Homo sapiens: one gene and its partner. The protein of the gene in region 1 interacts with the protein of each later gene in a biochemical or structural test. Each region holds a gene or a part of one and is shown on either strand. Other genes may lie near its edges.

The links.
Region 2: the proteins of NOTCH2 (region 1) and JAG2 form a complex in vitro, tested with the Homo sapiens proteins (one study listed by BioGRID).

The regions. Positions count from the first base shown.
Region 1 is NC_000001.11:119,961,540-119,965,351, forward strand, and holds part of NOTCH2 (neurogenic locus notch homolog protein 2 isoform 1 preproprotein), read right to left. Parts: intron 2,269-3,812; coding exon 2,035-2,268; intron 1-2,034. UniProt on the Homo sapiens protein: Functions as a receptor for membrane-bound ligands Jagged-1 (JAG1), Jagged-2 (JAG2) and Delta-1 (DLL1) to regulate cell-fate determination.
Region 2 is NC_000014.9:105,158,552-105,162,363, reverse strand, and holds part of JAG2 (protein jagged-2 isoform a precursor), read left to right. Parts: intron 1-3,812. UniProt on the Homo sapiens protein: Putative Notch ligand involved in the mediation of Notch signaling. Involved in limb development.

The DNA of each region.
Region 1 (3,812 bases):
CTCCAAAGCCTTATTATTCAATTGCTTGGAATCTATAAGAGGCTCTGGGTGCTTTCGCTAAGCTCTTTCTGTTTCTTTGTTTTGTTGTTGTTTATTTTTTGTAAATGATGACTTAAACTAGCTCAAGTTGGTCTGTTACTTGAAACACAAAGAAACTTACTTAAAACTTTACTATCATAAAAGCACAGATGAGAGAACGCACTGAAGGTAACTCTGGGTAGTATATCTCACTTTAAGTACCCAGTGAGTGACTACCACAATTTTAGCTGACAAACTGTAAAATATTTCTTCCATCCACTCCCCTATCCAAACACCAAACTACCAACTTAGGCCATATAAGTGGAACAGGAATTCTTACTCTAGAACTTCAGACTCTATTCATAATGCCTCTTTTAATGGATTTTCCACCCAGGTCCCTGATACATGCCAGGTCTTTCTCCACCCATTACAGATCAACATTTTTTTAATGTTGTCTGACCGTTGCTTGCTTTAATTCTCCAAATAACTGCAGGAACATCTTTGGCAGGTTCTGACAGATTCCGGGCCTTCCTTTCCATGCTGCCTACAGATCACTCATATTGACTTCTCACCTTCTCAGTGACAGCTACTTATACCATACCCTCTCTGTCCTCCCCAGAAAACACCTGATATATCCTGGTATAATGATATAATGCCAGAGAAAACAAAGTGCTTGCCAACCCACCACTCACCCAGGTTTCCAGTATGTTTATTATGATGGGAATGATAGCAAAGTCTAAAGCCCCTCGATTCTAAAGACATCCAGTCAATTGCTTGTAAATCTCTCAAATTTCTTTTCCTACTATAATTTCTCATGTCTGAGGAACAGCCCGGAAGCAAATTGCTTTTGGAAGTTTTCACAAAGATCTATTCAGCCCTTTTAGTGAGTTATCTAAATGTGGGGAGGGAAAGGCATTTTCAGCTGTGACGGCATGGGATGTTTTTCGTATGCTTGAGCAATTCAAAAAGGACTTTGTTTTCAAACTTGGCATGTATGAAGCCTTGGGTAAAGACCAGAGCCTTTGACAAATTTGAAGAAATGGATTTGGAAACAGTAAAAGAAAATGAGGGTAGCTAACTACCCTCTCCACCTCTGCTCTCTACATAGGTCATTTTCCTTACATCCAGAATGAGTTCTCAATAAATCACTCCTTTATATTGGCAGGTTTCCTTCTAACAAAGGCACACATTGGTTAATCTTCCACTAATACATTTTCCTTTGATCTGGAACATAGTACATCTCTGTCCACTAACCATAGTTGTGACCATAATCATTCATCTAATAAGTAAAACAGAACCATCCAAACCTGTGAGATGCTGCTGCCTGAGAAAATAATTCCACATCCCCCCAGAAAGGAGCAGCATGTCCTCACGACCAACAAGGAGTCATTCAACCAAGGTCAGAGAACAATGATGAACTCCGAGGATAGGAAATGACAGCTCTGCGTTCTACTTTAGTTACTGTGGTGTGTTGTAAGGTATCTCCTCTTCCTTAGAATCCCCCAAGATGGCTAAGGCCCCACCAGAGACAAGTGACTGAAGAAACATGTCACAATAAAGAGACTGAACTGTGAAAGAGAAAATACATTAAAGGAAGGGAAGAAGGGAAGAAGGAAGGTAGGTAGGAAGGAAGGAAGGAAGGAAGGAAGGAAGGACTGAATTTATTAATCTGGGTGGGGTGGAACTTAAAGAAAAAAAGATAATATAGCCACAAAAAAGAGGGTTTTCAATTTTAAATCATTAATTTTAATTTTTGAAGTGGTATGCCTCTATTTAACAAAACACACACAAACACACACACAAAATCATCAGATTGGCAGAGCTATTGTCTCTGACTTCTCCACTGGCTAGGGCCATTTGCCTTGAGACATTTATGTTTGTGGCTTTGGCTGTGCTTCTCAGAATCAGGACTGTTTTTTAGGTATCTGAGCATATGCCAACAGTCTGAAACATCTGTGTAAACAGATTTGAGAAACAGTGAAAACCCCATACCAAACATAAACAGAGTGGGCTTACCTGACGTGCCTGGCTGGCAGTTGCACTGGTAGCCATTGACCAGGTCAATGCAGCGACCATCGTTCAGGCAAGGGCTGCTGTAACATTCATCAATCTGGTCACTGCAGATGGCGCCCATGTACCCGGGATTGCAGATGCAGGTGTAGGAATCAATACCATCCTGACACTGACCATGGTGGCAAGGATCGGGGTCACAGTTGTCAATGTTCTCCTCACACAACACACCAGTGAAACCTTTGGAAAGAATTTTATCAAGGATTCTCAAAGACCAAGGCAGATATTCCACACCAGAACACAAGTGTAGCTACATCCATTTACTCTACACATTCGATGTGTGGTCAATTAATACTGCAGGTCTTGAGCAGTAGAAAACGACGATCTGCATTGATTTAGAAAGTATGCCTGGAGAGAGGTGCTTAAAATAAAGATTTCCAAATCAAATTTTAGAATTGAAATACCTTCGCAACTGATCAATAATTTCATTGCAGAGATGCTTTAACTGCACCTTCATTTCTTACTAGGCTTCAGGTATAACAGCTCAAAATATTTTTCCTTTATATATTTATCTTTGTATTTCTTTCTTCCCAAGTCCAATATACAGGTTAATGATTTCATGTATCTTATGTCCCCAATTCTGACTTTGGAGGTAAGAGAGCTTTATTTTACTTCTCTCAACTCCTCTGAGAGTAGTATGCATATATAGTAGTTTTAAATAAATACTGGTTGAATAAAATGAATGAACCTGTTATGAGAATTTAAAAGAAAAAGAGACAAGTAAGATTTCCTTTCTTCGAGGTGTAAATAGACAAACATTATATCTTTCCCTAAAAGACTCCAGGAGTCCTCCCCCCACTTTTAAACCTGAGCTAAAGGTTTTTAATCTCTTTGAAACTTATCCTCTACAAGAAGAATCTGGCCAGGGGAAGACAAAATCTGGATTCTCTGACAAGCATTAACTATTTGCAAAAAGAAAGAAAGTGGCTCATCTGAGTTGTCCTAAACTAAGTAGGTCTAATAATTAAAATATTAACTTTTTGTATTAATTTTCACAATTAAATTTGCTTTTCTGTGATCAGAAATAAATTATATGCATGATGCCTTTAATCTTTAAGACTCCATTCTCTAAAATTAATGTCTTGAATTACATAAATAACTTCTTTCTCAAGCAGTCAGATAATAAAGAAGTTCACTTCTAATAATTTCTAGCCTTTCTGTATAATATTTGCCTGTGTAAAAGGAAATGTGTAATAGGGAACATCTGGCTTACTGAAATCCAATCCCAAGTACAAAATGTGATTACAAACCCAGAAATGCAGAATATTTGTGCACAGATCGTTTTTGACTCTAGTTGCAGAAGTCAGCAAAGAGGACCCAAACTTTCCCAGTGAGAGCTCTCTCTCCTGTCATTTACACACTTGACTCTCAATCCTATTTTGGTGTCTTTTATGCAGAATACCCCTGCACTTGTACACATTCAGCCTTTAAATTTCTGGGCCTTCTTTCAGTCACTTGCTTCAAGAAACACAGAGCCAGGCCTCCTGCTGAGAAGCCCCAGTGAAAAATAGCTTTCAACTGGATTTCTTCTCTTTCCTAAATGAGTCAATCTAGCCAGCTGGAAACTTACTGCTGCCAAAATCTGTCCCAGAAAGACATGGATACCAAATGGAAATATCTGGGCCAGACCACTGTTGTGGTGGAGGAGGCAGGTGCTGCAGAAAAAGAGAGCAGCAAAAAATTTGTTAGAAACAGCTCTTCCTAAACACAGAGGAGCCTCTGGG
Region 2 (3,812 bases), on another chromosome or scaffold:
TTGAGGGTTCGGGCTGGGGAGGAGGCAATCAGATGGTGGGAGATGAAGTTGGGCTGCGGGTCTGCTTGTGCGGTGGGGGTGGGTCAGGCCGGGCTTGTAGGGAGAGGCTTAGCTGGGCCTGCAGGGGTGAAGCCCTTCCCCCTTGGCCTCCAGAGACTGGGCAGGGGCATAGCCCTGCTAGGCTGGCCTTGAGGGAGGGCCTGGGTTCCTCTCCCTGCTTGCCGGGGAACCTGGGCAGGTGATGGGTCTCTCACCTGTCCCCAGACCCCCAGCCCACACATCGCCTATTGCCCCTGCCAGCGCCAGGCCCACATCCCCACATGTCCCAGCCCCGTTCCTAGAAGGGCAACATGCCCGCCAACCCCCGCCCAATCCAGGCCCTATAGTCCCTCCTGTGTTCTAGGGGTTTGGTGTTGACAAAACCCTGTCCCAGATCGTGGCCCGCCAGGCAGGAAGGACAGGGGTGAGAGGTTGCTATTCGCAGAGGAGGCAACTGAGTCCTGGAAGGACAGGGGTGAGAGGTTGCTATTCGCAGAGGAGGCAACTGAGTCCTGGAAGGACAGGGATGAGAGGTTGCTATTCGCAGAGGAGGCAACTGAGTCCTGGAAGGACGGGGGTGAGAGGTTGTTATTCACAGAAGAGGCAAATAAGTCCTGGAGGCTGGCCCCTAGGGAAGAAGGGGAGCTGGGAGAGCTGGCAGGTGGGGTGAGGCAGGTACCGCCCCGTCAGCCAGCTCAGGTTCACTCTGGATGACTTCCTGCCATCCAGGTGTAGGGACCCCAGCTGGCGGGCGGTGAGGCCCTCTCGGCGGGCGGGCAGGCACACGTCCCTGCGGGAGCAGGTAACCGGAGCCCTGGGCTCAGGCGAAGGTGGCAGTAATCTTACCTGAGTGGCTGGCATGAGGTTTCCTGGGAGTCGAGAGGAACTCCCTGCTGGCCCTGAAGCCCAGGTGTGGCTGTGCCGGGAGACCGGGTGGCCTGGCTTTTCTCTGCCTGCCCCGTGGCCAGAGCTGCTCTCAGACCCATGCTGGCCCCATCCTCTGACCTCACTATTGCTGCTTCCTGGTCCTGCTGGTTCCTGTCCAGCGGCTACAGTGACTGTTAAAGCCTGGTGGGTCCCAGTCCTCACTCAGACCCCCAACAACAGACCTCACTCAGACCCCCAACAACAGACCTCACTCAGACCCCCAACAACAGACCTCACTCAGACCCCCAACAGACCTCACTCAGACCCCCAACAGACCTCACTCGGACCCCCAACACCCGAACAGACCTCACTCAGACCCGCAACAGTCACCCACTTCGCTTAGCCTCAGGAAGGAAGTCCGTGGTGGGGTCTGGATCTGTGGTATGACCCCACTGTCCCCGTGGGCTATGCGTTCTCAGCCCCTGGGCCTTCTTGTGGGCTCTGCCATGCAGCTCCTTCACTTCCTCATGCCCTGCAGCCTCAATCTCAATGCCACCTGTTCAAAGCCTGGCCTGGCCTTTTTTTTTTTTTTTTGAGATGGAGTTTTGCCCTCGTTGCCCAGGCTGGAGTGCAATGGTGCGATCTCGGCTCGCTGCAACCTCGGCCTCCTGGGTTCAGGTGATTCTCCTGCCTCAGCCTCCAGAGTAGCTGGGACTACAGACACCTGCCACCATGGCTGGCTAATTTTTATATTTTTAGTAGAGATGAGGATTAACCGTGTTGACCAGACTAGTCTCGAACTCCTGACCTCAGGTGATCTGCCTGCCTCAGCCTCTTAAAGTGTTGGGATTACAGGCGTGAGCCACTGTGACCCGTTGGCCTGGCCTTATTGGAACAACAGCCCCTGCCCCCTGTTGCTTTCCCCGAGCCCCGCTGGCTATAGGTTGCCGTCCTTGGTGGCAGAGGCATGCCTGCTGTACACTTGATGTGAACGAAGGAAGGAAGGAACGAAGGAAGGAGCCAAATGCCAGACGCCTGGGAAGCGGCTGGGTGCTCCAGGTGTTACCGGGGGTGGGGAAGGGCTTGGCCAGGTGCAGCTGCGAGGGTGGTGCTCCAGGCAGATGGGTTGATAGGCTGGGGTGGGTGGGTGGGGGTGGGCAGGAGCCTTGGGAACCCCAAGGGTGCTCTGAGCTGAGAGGGCGTGGACAGAGTCCTGGTGGGGGTGTGGATGGAGCCCTGGGGGGTGTGGATGGAGCTGACGGGGGTGGTTTGTGGACAGAGCCCTTGGGGGGTGTGGACACAGTCCTGGGGGTGGTGTGGACAGAGTCCTGGGGGGTGTGGATGGAGCCCTGGGGGGGTATGGATGGAGCATGTTGGGGGGTGTGGATGGAGCTCTGGGGGGGTATGGATGGAGCCCTGGGGGGGTGTGGATGGAGCATGTTGGGGGGGGTGGACAGAGCTCTGGGGGGGGTGTGGACGGAGCCCTGTTGGGGGGTGTGGATGGAGCATGTTGGGGTGTGTGGATGGAGCATGTTGGGGGGTGTGGATGGAACTCGGGGGGTGTGGATGGAGCTCTGGGGGGTATGGATGGAGCCCTGGGGGGTGTGGATGGAGCATGTTGGGGGGTGTGGACAGAGCTCTGGGGGGGGGTGTGGACGGAGCATGTTGGGGTGTGTGGATGGAACTCTGGGGGGGTGTGGATGGAGCCCTGGGGGGGTGTGGATGGAGCTCTGGGGGGGTGTGGATGGAGCATGTTGCGGGGTGTGGATGGAGCCCTGGGGAGGTGATGGAGCCTGTTGGGGGGTGTGGATGGAACCCCGTTGGGGGATGTGGATTGAGTTCTTTGGGGGTGTGGATGGAGCTCTGGGGGGTGTAAACAGAGCTCGGCGGGGGGTGTGGACGGAGCCTTGGGAGGCATGTGGATGGAACTCTGGGGATTGTCTGGCGCCTGTAGGCAGAGGTTTGCGGGCCCTGGTGACCTCAGGGAGCCCTGGAGATGGGCGGGGACTGGGCCCCGTGGCCTGGCGGGGCCATGGCGGATGTGGGAAAACGGGTTTAAGGGGAGCTTAAGAGGTGGGATTGAGGGTCTGTTGTCAGCTCGACGTGGCTAGGGAGGGTTCTAGGAGCGGGTTGGGGATGGCCCCCCACTTCCATCCTGTGCTCCTACCTGGGTGAGCCTCCTCGGGCCGTCCCCGGGTGTTCTGCAGGCAGGGGCTCGGGGGCGGGGCCGGGGTTGCCCAGCTGTGAGTGAGGCCCAGGGTCAGCAGTCATGTTGGGCCCTAGTTGTCTGTATTTGAGGGACAGTCGGAGGTGTGGGGCGGGGGACTGGGTGGGGGTCCTGGAGGCTGGGCTGGGTGTGGCTGGTAGCACGTTGGTTAGGGGAGGGGCTGGACGTGGGAGTGCAGTCTTCTGAGACATCTTGGGAGGCCAGGCCTGTCCTTAGCTGGATGAGGCCGAGGCACTGGGACGTGCGTGGGGTGGGCGGCGGGTGAGGACCAGGGAAGGGCTGGCAGGCGTGGGGTTGGGCCTTGCTGGGGAAGTGTGGTTTTCCCCAGCTTAGCCAGGCCTTGGGGCTGGTTGGATGGGGTGTGCTGAGGGATGGAGTGAGCCTGGCCTGCCTGGACACTGCCCAACGCAGCATCCCCCCGGGGTGGGAAGCCAGCAGGCCCTGAGGTGACTCAGCCCCAGCCCCCTCCTCTGGGCCCCACCTGGAAGGAGCCAGGGCTGGGCTCAGGGGTCAAGAGCACACCAGGGGTAGACTGGGGGGTTCCTGGGCAGTGAGGGCTGAGAGGCTGTGGAATGTGGGTACCCAGTGCTGGGTAGTACAGGGCATGTCCCGGGGGTCCCACCTGTCTGAGCATGTCTGTGAGTGACGGTCTCCGTGGGCTGCACTAGGCGGAGCAGGG